Linked DNA regions of Homo sapiens: region 2 is linked to region 1. The links come from fine-mapping of genetic effects on gene expression. A gene starts in region 1. The other region holds a variant in brackets. All regions are shown on one strand. Distances are from middle to middle.

Evidence for each region. PIP is the estimated chance that this variant, and not a neighbour inherited with it, causes the effect.
Region 2: its variant is the best candidate, but not a certain one, in a credible set for the expression of MAP3K2 in left ventricle (GTEx, PIP 0.89).

What each region holds. Positions count from the first base shown.
Region 1 is chr2:127,385,185-127,390,566 of GRCh38, forward strand. MAP3K2 (mitogen-activated protein kinase kinase kinase 2) reads right to left here and starts at 2,791. Exons shown (of 17, transcript NM_001371910.2): 1 at 2,268-2,791. It overlaps MAP3K2-DT (MAP3K2 divergent transcript), which reads left to right and starts at 2,254. Exons shown (of 4, transcript NR_187129.1): 1 at 2,254-2,368; 2 at 3,697-3,814; 3 at 3,927-4,001. It overlaps LOC124906074 (a long non-coding RNA gene), which reads left to right. Exons shown (of 4, transcript XR_007087227.1): 3 at 340-371; 4 at 896-977. RefSeq lists a silencer at 2,211-3,080.
Region 2 is chr2:128,164,652-128,170,033 of GRCh38, forward strand. UGGT1 (UDP-glucose glycoprotein glucosyltransferase 1) reads left to right here. Exons shown (of 41, transcript NM_020120.4): 26 at 79-174. Among named protein-coding and RNA genes, the nearest start is that of UGGT1, 76 kb to the left of the region's middle. The variant G/T (reference allele first, on the strand shown) is at 3,322.

The sequences.
Region 1 (5,382 bases):
AGGAAGAGTCCATCGATGCGGCAAACTTCACTAATGTCTTACTTTAAGAAATTGCCTCAGCCATCCCAAACTTCAACAACCACCCCTTATCAACCATCCTTACTAGTCAGCAGCCATCAACATGGAGGCAAGACCCTCCACCAGCAAAAAGATTACAATTCCCTAAAGGCTCAAATTTCTTTAGAAATTTTTAGCAATAAATAATTTTTTAATTAAGGTATATACTTTTTTTAGACATAATGCCATTGCACACAATAGACTACAGTATATTGTAAACATAACTATATGCACCGTGAAACTAAAAAGTTTATGTGACTCACTTCTTTTCCTTTATTGCAGTGGTCTGGAACCAAAGCCACAATCTCTCTAAGGTATGCCTGTACATGTACCTATAGATAAAGCAAATATGGCAAGATAACAACAAATGTTTAATCTAGAGGGTCAAGATACAAGTGGTTTACTATTACCAAATTTTCTGTATGCTTGAAATTGTTTGATAATAAAAAGTGGGAGGTGGGGGGAAATAGCTCCAATTCTATAGGGAAAGAGAAAATCAACCTGAAACCAACGCTGTAGGAAATGCAGAGTATCAAACATGACTTTATTTTAATACAGCACCTGTTAGTTTAACCCTTTGGTACCAATAAAGTAAACTAGAAACAAAAGCTCCCCCTAAAACATTGCTTATAAGACTCAGTCTCTAATGCAATCCAATTATTTAAGATAAGCCTTTAACAGCTAGTTTCTCAAAAGAGGCACATGGATAACCATTCTATAATGATATCATATACAACATAATTCAATAAGATTCAACATGTTTATATTTTAACCAAACAACAAATCAATCTGTAAACCATCCACATGTTAACTTTGTAATTTCACCTTTTCTCCACAGAGACTGCAAGACCACAAATTTTCTTCAACTTGATAATATACTAGGAAAATTACAGAGTAATATAACTGGGCATCAATAGATTTGTTAAACATTTGCAATTATGCATAGAGCTTCAATTACTCAAAGGAAATGTATCGACTTTTTTTCAGTACAGAGCTCTGGCTCCTTATTTTTTCCTCTCACCATAGTTTTAAAAAATACAAAACTCATGCTAAAATGAGAATTTTCAGTTAACTTATAAACACTGACTAGTAGCACTCCATACAAATGAAAAAGAATCACACCATCAAACTTCCTACGATATTCTACGCATTAAAATTTGACATCGAACTAAAAAAGATTGCATAAGACAACGAACAAATCACTAAATTGCCACATAATCCAGCAACAAATTTTGCAACAAGGAAATCTCAAGCAAATAACCCAACTGTGAGTTCCCTTTGGGCATCAAGGTCAAACTACAAAAGTAAATTTGTGACTTTTCAAGATCTATGCAGTTTTACCAAATGTATTTATTTTTTGTGAGAGAATAATTTTTTTCTGTCCAGTACTAGTACATAAAAAGTAAAGGTATCTGAAGCCATCTTTTAAATTTTTTTTAAAGCCAAGAAAATGATTTGGCAAAAGATATCGAAGAGCTTACGTTAGGGAAAACTAAACTGTATCTGTCTATGTGTTTAGAATTTATCCCATTAAAGAAACTGCCCAGTTAGTCTCATTTTCTAAACGTATTTATTTTTTGCAAGACGAGAAATACAGTCTTACAAAAAGACATCTGCATATTCGAACCAAGCCTTCCTGGATTACTACCTTCATGACCTTGGACAAATGCCTTAATCTCTCTGAGCCTCAAGTTTTCACCTGCAAAATGGGGCAATTTACCCACCTCATTGAGCTGGGAAGATGAAGAGAGATAATGCATGACAACTGCCGGGCGCAGACTAAGAGCACCCTAAGTGCTACCTAAATATTCCGTAAAGAGAAAAGGGGGAAACAACCTTACATCAAAAGATTACCACACTGTGACAGTGCAAAGACAAGCACTTTTTCGCTTACTGCATGTACCATTTCTGCTTCATCCCAAGACCAGATGCAACCTTTCTTCTAAAATCTCTGCAGGGTACGTGTCTGACAGCTAACACAGCCCAGCAGCCTACTTCGCGCTGACCTGGGCTTTAGGACTGGATGCAGGGGGCCCAAGGTCCGCCCTCCCGCAGCTAGGCAATCACCCAGCGAAATCTCCGCCCCTGGAGCGGCGCTTAGGCCGCCGCCAGCCCCCCTCCCGGCGCCCAGCCCGCGGCCCCCGACACACACGCGCGCACACACACACACACACACACACAAGCGCGCGCGCACGCACACACGCACGTACCGGCTGCTCCGCAGGGACGTAGAGAGCCGCAGGCCCAAGGAGGGGCCGCCCCCGCCGAGCCCGCCCCTCCGCCCCAGCGCGGCCTGTCACCGCGGCCCCAGGTCGGGGGCTGCCGCAGGGCCCCCGGGGACCGGAGGGGCGCGCGAGGAGTCGGGCGCGGGCCTTGGGGCCAGGCCCGTCCCTCTTTCACATGAAGCCCGGGCCGGGCGGGGTGGCGGGCGCGTGAATCCTCGCAGCCGGCCGGGTCCTCCTGGCGCTCCTCGGCACTTCTAGCCGCTGCAACCCCGAGGCCCGCGGGAACTGGGCAGGAAAGGAGGAAGCCGCGGGCCCGCGTCGCTAGAGACCGGAGAAGAGGCGGGAGTGGCGACTCTGCGGACAGGGGCGCCGAGCGTCCTGGTCGTTGTTTTCGTCGCCGCCGCGGGCCGTGCAACCCCCGAACGCTGCGCCCAGCGGCCGCGGCACCCTCGTCAGGCGCCGCCGCTGAGGGCAGGCAGCCCGGCAGCCACTACACACGGACCCGTGACGTCGGGCGTAGCGCGGCGCACGTCACGGCCGCTCGCTCGTGCGCGCGCACCCCTCCGCCCGGCGGTAGCGGAACCCGCCGCGGGCGCGCGCCCGGCCCAGGGGAGTGGGTCGGCGCCTGCGCAGAGGCCCGCCACGCCCACACACAGGCCACCGCCCCCACCGGCCGGACGGCGCGGGGATTCCCAGTCCTGGCTCCGCCCCGGCCTCGGCCCCGCCCCCGCCCCTGCCCCGGGGCAGCCTGTGCTGTTCCGTGTGCGCGGCGCATACGCACCTGGGTTGTCTCGAGCCTGCGGTAGTGGCCAGATCCCAGACATCCGAGTAGATCCCGTGAAAAGGTCTCCCACGTGGGCTGTGGACAGGGCCCAAGGGTAGCAGAGCTAGCAGAGGCAGTGACGGACTGTGTGGCAGGTCATTTGCAAGGAGAAAAGCCGTCTGCCTCTTAATTTGTGGCTCAAGTTTCAGAATTTTTTTCCTGAGGGACTTTAGAAATTACTTCAGGCTTGCCACCTAACCTTAAACCACCCCCTTGGAGACTGGCTAAGTGTTATTTGTGTTTTCTGTTTAGTTCTTATCACCATCGATACTTGGTTATGACTGGTTGTGTACATTGGTTAGCCCAGCAAGTATTACTTCTCCAGCTTAACAGATGTGGAAACTTAAGCCCAGAGACATGAGTTGACACCCCACCCCCAAAGCTAGAGTCTAAAACCCTTTCTTTCGCTCCTCATCTCCCACAGGATAAAATGCAAATTAATCAGACTAGTGGTGAGGCCCTCCGTGGTGTGACTAACCTGCATCCCGACGTTTTCACCCTACTTTGATCCAGAAAGCACCTTTCCGCCCCATCTCTTCTCCTTTCCTTAAATACCCCTTACAACTTCCTGTACCATTCTTCCCTGTTCAGCTTCTTCTTGGTTTCTTCGTACATTCTGGATCCACCCCTTTCATGCATATTCCAGACCACATTTCCACTGGAGCAGTTGAAATGAGAGAGATGGGAATGGGACTCACCCGAACCAGAGGTAAGGAGCTACCCAACTTGGGCTCTGAGGGTCAAGGGAGCTGGCACTTGTGGGGCAGAGACTGAGGGAGAAACTGTTGTGTAATGTCAAAATATCTCTGGGTTTCTTCCAGGAATTTTTATTACAGACCCATTAACAGAGGTGTCAAAGTCACAGGAACAAGGATGTGCACCTCAGAAACACAGAGGTCAGTGGAAAATCAGTTTGCTTCTATTTGTTTAAAAAATGGGGGACTTATGCATAAATCTAAGACCTTCTTGAATCTAACATTCTAAGACCTGTATGCCACAGAAAGGAGGGTCTCAGAACGCCGGAGGATAGTATTTAAATCTTAAATATCTATATTGTTCTCCACAGTTACTGGGTCACCACATAGCAGGCATTCAATAAAAACGTGTTTGTTTACTAAGTAATCTAGAGATAAATTTTTTCCCCTCATAGTGCTGCTCATTTCTCCACTCCCTTCCCTCACTTACCACCCCGGGGACTTCATTCACCTCTGGGTTCCTCAGAAACATCCCGTGGGTATAGTTATAGTAGCTATTCTTTCTTTTTCGCCATTCTCCTTTTATATTGGTGACTTTTCCTCTTGCTTAGATATTAAATCTCTGACATCTTTGGTTATTTTAGTATATATGATTACAAATTAGTGATATTGGGATTTTTTTATTGATGAAACCATCATTCAATGAATATTTTTTTGCCTTCCTACTCTGTGCCTGGGATTGCAGTGATAAAATTATATAGTCCCCACTGCCCAGGAACTCAGAATCCTGTGAGGAAGGCAGACAGGTAAATGGATAATGATAACACACTGTGACCTGCATCATGGGAGGGATGTGTATCAGGCACCACAGCAGCAAGAGGAAGATGTCACAGGTGTGTCTGGGGAAGTGAGAGATGACTTCAGAGAGGAAATGTGGCATGTTCCTTTTCTGTTGCTGCATAACAAACTGCCACAAACTTAGTGACTTAAAACAGTGTCTGTTTTTTAGCTCCCAGTTATACAGATCAGAAGTTTGCACAGGGGCAAGGCTGAGTTCTCTACTCAGGGTATATTGCAAGGCTGAAATCAAGGTATCAGCTGGGCTGACTTTTTATCTAGAGGCCCTTGCAAAGATCTTCCAAGCTCATTCTTCTTTGGGGCACAATTCAGTTTCCTGTGGTTGTAGGATTGACATCCCTATTTCCTGGGCCTGCCTTCAGTTCCTAGAGGTCACCTGCATTCCTTGCCACATGACCCCTTCCATCTTGAAAGCCAGCGACAGAGACCTTCTTGCGTGCCAAACATCCTCCTACATCAGATCTCTCTCTAACTTCCTCTTTTGCTACCAGCCAGAGAAAACTCTCTGCTTTTATTTTTATTTATTTTTTTATTTTTGAGACAGAGTCTCACTCTGTCGCCCAGGATGGAGTGCAATGGCGCAATCTCGGCTCACTACAACCTCCGCCTCCCAGGTTCAAGTGATTCTCCTGCCTCAGCCTCCTGAGTAGCTGGGATTACAGGCACCCACCCCCACGCCCAGCTAAGTTTTGTATTTTTAGTAGAGACAGGTTTTCACCATGTT
Region 2 (5,382 bases), 780 kb after region 1:
GGCTGATGATATGTTTGGCAATAATTGGAAAACTTTCAGTTAAAAAGATGTTAAGATTTCTCTAACCCCTTCTTTCAGGGCAAGCGACTTGGTAATGAAGGTGGATGCTCTTCTGTCAGCGCAACCAAAAGGAGATCCAAGAATCGAGTACCAGTTTTTTGAAGACAGACACAGGTATAGAATTAATGTTGAATTTGTGCATATTCTTGAATATTAAACTCTTATGTTTGCTTTACCTCAGCTCCTTCATTTTTCCATATAAGATTTATATATAAGTTCTTACAGGAATTGAACATTTGTTTGGTGTGCAGTTTTCACATGTATATATTTGTGTTCATATATAAAATTCATATGCAAATCTCAGTTGTATGAAAACTGACATTTATTTCTAAATGAATCTGAAATAACTCTGAGTGCACCCTTGTAGTAGAAAATAGACTGCATTTAATTAAACAGAGAAGTTGTACTTTTCTTAAATTCGAGAATAAACACAGGCAGGTCAAGATAGCTCATGCTTGTAATTCCAGCACTTTGGGAGGCCAGTGTGGGAGGATCGCTTGAGCCCAGAAGCTCGAGACCAGCAAACAAAGGGAGACCCTGTCTCTACAAAAAAATTTTAAAACATTAGCTGGGTGTGGTGGCATGTGCATGTTGTCCCAGCTACTCTGGAGGTAGAGGCTGCAGTGAGCCATGATCTCATCACTGCACTTCCAGCCTGAGCAACAGACTGAGACCCTGTCTCACAAAAAAATTAAACAGAGATTGGCTGGGCGTGGTGGCTCATGCCTGTAATCCCAGCACTTTGCGAGGCTGAGGCCAGCGGATCACCTGAGGTCAGGAGTTTGAGACCAGCCTGGCCAACATGGTGAAACCCCATCTCTACAAAAATACAAAAATTAGCCAGTCATGGTGGCAGATGCCTGTAATACCAGCTACTCAGGAGCCTGAGACAGGAGAATCGCTTGAACCCAGGAGGTAGAGGTTGCAGTGAGCAGAGATCGTGCCATTGCACTCCAGCCTTGGAGACAGAGCAAGACTCCATCTCAAAATCATAATAATAGTAAGATAAACAGATTATTAAAGTACTTGTCTCATTCATCTTTTATTGAAAACTTTTTTTAAAAAAAAAAAACAGGGTTTCATTCTGTCATCTGGGCTAGAATGCAGTAGCGTGATCTCAGCTCACTGCACCTTCCGCCTTCTGGGCTCAAGTGATCTTCCTACCTCAACCTCCTGTGTGGAAGAGACCACAGGCGCTTGCCACCATGCCTGGCTAGTTTTTGTATTTTTTATAGAGATGGGGTCTCACTGTGTTGCCCAGGCTGGTCTCAAACTCCTAGGCTCAAGTTATTCATCTGCCTCAGCCTCCCAAGGTGCTTGGCCGAAAACTTTTGTTTTAAATAAGCTTAGCATAGTGAGGGAGTTTGCCTTTTTGTTCTTCACTTTTTTGTTTTGAAAAGTTTAAAACCTAGAAATAGTTGAAAGACTAATATAATGAGCACCCAAATATCCTTCACTTAGATTCACCAGTTGTTGGTGTGTCACATTTGCTTTATCTCTGTCATCTGCACACGTGCATGTTGTGTGCGTGTGTCTGCATGTGTGTGTTTGTGTAGTACTTCTAGTAACTGCTTTAGTAGTTTATTTATATGTTTGCATACACACGGTCATATTTTTTCCTGCACCATTTGGAAATACGTTGCAGACATCCTGATGTAACATGTCTGACGTTTTCCGCATGTGTATCCTGAGTGCTAGGACTTCTCCGCAGTACTGTTAGCTGACCTCAGAAATGTAACCTTGATACAGTAATATTAAAACACAATTTCTGTTCACATGACTCCAGTATCTTTGTAATGACCTTCTACAACTGTTTTTTGTATTTGTTTTGGTCCAGATTACATATTACAGAGTTGTGTCTCTTTGGTCTCCTTTAATCTGGAAGAGTTCTTTGCCATTTTTTTTCCTAGTCTTTTGTCTTTTATGATGACATTTTTTAAGAGTCCAGGACAGTTGTCTTATGGAATGTCTCACAGTCTGAGTTGCTTCCTCATGATTAGATTTAATTGTTTCTAGGAAAGAGCCCTGCGCAGTAATGTATATAGCCTTTGCTGTAGCTGGCAAGTATATACATATACACTGATTGTGCCTCGGAATCCCCAGGGAGGCTTTAAATATAGATGCCTGTGTCCTATTCCTCTGTGTTTCTGAGCTGATCAGTCTGGCATGGATTGGACTTTGGTTTAGTGGGCCTGTGTTTTTTATGACCCATCCTTGTGGGGATCAGGTGTGCGTGGTGAGATCATTTGATGATTGTAGGCTGGAATGGAGGCCCTCTCTGTTTGCACTGGTTGTGTGTCCTAATTTTTTATGTCAGCAGTGGGTGAAGATTCTTATGGCTCCTGGATAATCCTTGTTGAATTTGGCCATTAGCACCCAGATTGCACCCATTTTCTCAACATTTTGTGAACTTTCAGGAAGTAACTCATTAGTCACCAGCGGGAGGAAACCTTTCCTAATCAACCTGCCATCTTGTTTACCCTTCTTGCCCAAGGTAGCGAGTCCTGAGCAAAGACCTCTTCCCTTTTCAGAAATCTTCTTCTCCATGGGTCTCCATGTTTTGTATAATTAAAATACCTTAATTATAAATTCTATTATGAGACAAATTATAATTCCTATTAGAGAAGTTCCTCTTATTGGGAGTTGTGTCAGTTAAATGAATGTTTATTACATTTAACTCAGAAGTTTCTCATTTATGCTAGAAATAGAAAGATCTGAACCATCAGTTATGTATATTCTTGCCCTCAAAGTGTGGTCCATGGACCAGCAGCAAGACATTGTCTGGGAGCCTGTTGGAAATGCAGGCTTTGGACCCACCCCAGTCCTGAGGAATCAGCACCTGCATTTTAACAAGTTGCTCCTGGGGGATTCCCGTGTGCATTCATGCTACTAAGCACAGTATTCGTTGACATTTACTCTACGAACCATAGGCAAATGTGTATAATCTCCAAATCTTGTTCCTGTCTCTGTCACTTTTAGTTTTATTCTGGTCTTTTCTCTGCACAATATAGTGAATACATTTAAACATGATGTTGTTCATATTGTTCCCATTTCCACACAAATACTCCTCTTTCCTTGTTTTTTTTCGAGTCCCTTTTTCTTGTTCTAGAGATGTGGGGTAAGTAAAGGACCTCACAAGGTCAATTTGTGGTGTGCCTGTTGCTGATCACCTAGAACACTGCTGGCTCAGAATGTGAACATGTTGTGTGAATCTCTACCCCAAACCTGGTGTGGGCAGGCATGACCAGATGTTACACTCTT[G/T]TGTAGAGTCCTTTTTGAGACTCTCTCTCTGGTTCCCTTGTGAGCCTTTGTATAATGCTATTTTCTAATGAGTTTTTCCTTCTAGAATTCTAGAATAGCAGAGAGGTGCAAATTATATTAGGGCAGTGGCTCTCAAAATTTGGCTTTTACTTAGAGTTTGTTAAAATGCAGATTGCTGGACCCGTCCCCAGAGTTTCTGATTCAGTAAGTCTGGGTTGGATCCTGACTTGCTTCTCACAAATGCCCAGGGGAAGCTGATGCCACTGCTCTGGAGTCACACTTTGAGAACAGTTGTATTAGAGTAACAGAAGTTTTGTTGTGTTAGAAGAATAATGATTGGCAGTGGACTTAATCTGAAATTGTTAATAATGCCAGAGATCGAAAGCACCTACCTCAACACAGATACAAAGCTATTCTCATGGTTATTTCCAAAGCAGTGAAGATGTGAAGTAACCTCCATGAGCATGTAAATTGTTTCCAGTTTTCTTCGTTATGCTGTTTTGTGGTATTCTTTTGTATTCATCCCACTTAGGTAAATGTTGTTTGGTAAAAAAAAAGTAAAAGTAGTGGTTAGTATTGTAACCACATTATAGTATTGTTCAGAGCAAACAAAGTATAATGGTTTAAACAGTTAATGGTTTTCAAAAATTGGGTATAATTTTAAATCCTTTCAAGTTGAGTCCTTTTAAAAGTTCATTAGAGGTTCCTGCTCCTTTTAAGTCACCAGTCTGTGTGACTTCACAGGGAGTCCATGCAACAGGAAGTTACCATTCAGTTAAGAACAGACAAGGGGGCTGGGCATGATGGCTCATGCCTGTAATCCCAGTGCTTTGGGAGGCCAAGGCAGGCAGATCACTTGAGGCCAGGAGTTCAAGACCAGCCTGGCCAACATGGCAAAACACCGTCTCTACTAACAATACACAAATTAGCTGGGCATGGTGGCATGTGCCTGTAATCCCAGCTACTTTGGTGGCTGGGGCGCGAGGATTGCTTGAGCCGGGGAGGTGGAGGTTGCAGTGAACCGAGATCACGCCACTATACTCCCAGCCTGGGTGAATGAGCGAGACTCTGTCTTTAAAAAAAAAAAAAAAAAAAAAAAAAAAAAAAAAAAAAAAAAAAGACAAGGACCAGGTGTGGTGGCTTATGCCATTGCTTTGAGAAGCCAAGGCAGGAGGATCACTTGAGGCCAGGAGTTTGAGACTAGTCTGGTCAATATGGTGAGACCCGTATCTCTACAAAAAAATATAAATTAGCCCGGCATGGTGGCATGTGTCTGTAGTCCTAGCTACTTAGGAGGCTAAGTTGAGAGGATCATTTCAACCCAGAAGTTAGAGGCTTCAGTGAACCATGATCACGCCACTGCACTCCAGCCTGGGCCACAGAGTGAGACCTTGTCTCTAAAAAAGTAAATAAGGAAAAGAACAGGCAAAATATCTATCTATAACTTAATGCTGACGAAGGATGTGGTGAAATTTATTTTTTGGCCTTGTAAATTTGTTTAGTTCTTCAGGAAATGTGGTTGACAATACTTATTAGCCGCAAAGTATTTGTATCCTTTGTCTCCATAATCTCATGTCTAGCACTTCCTTGACTCTAAAGAAATTTCCAAATGTGGAGAAAGTTGGTTGTACAAATTGTTTACAGGTTGAAAGCCATCTCTATGTCCAGCAGTAAAGAAAAGCTGGAGTAAACTCTGACAGCTTCATTTGGTGAATAGCATATTATTTCTTATAGAGGATGCTTGTTGTGTAACAGCATGTGGAAATCTTTATGCTACAGTAGTGAGAGACGGAAGGAAATTGTTTTGAAATTGCTAATCTGTATCTACAACTAATGTTTATACAGGCATCTAGAAAGGATTACGTAGAGATGCAGCTAAGTGGGCTGGGATAGTGAATATTTTGTGATTATATTTTTCCTTTTTCTTTGTTTTGCAGGTTTTCTGGAATGTTCTTTCATTATTTTTTAAAAATTGATTTATTCCTTTTCTTTTTGTACTCTTCTTGCCAAGAAGTAAAAACTGGCATAATGTTATCAGAAGCTAACTTCAGTAGCTTTTCT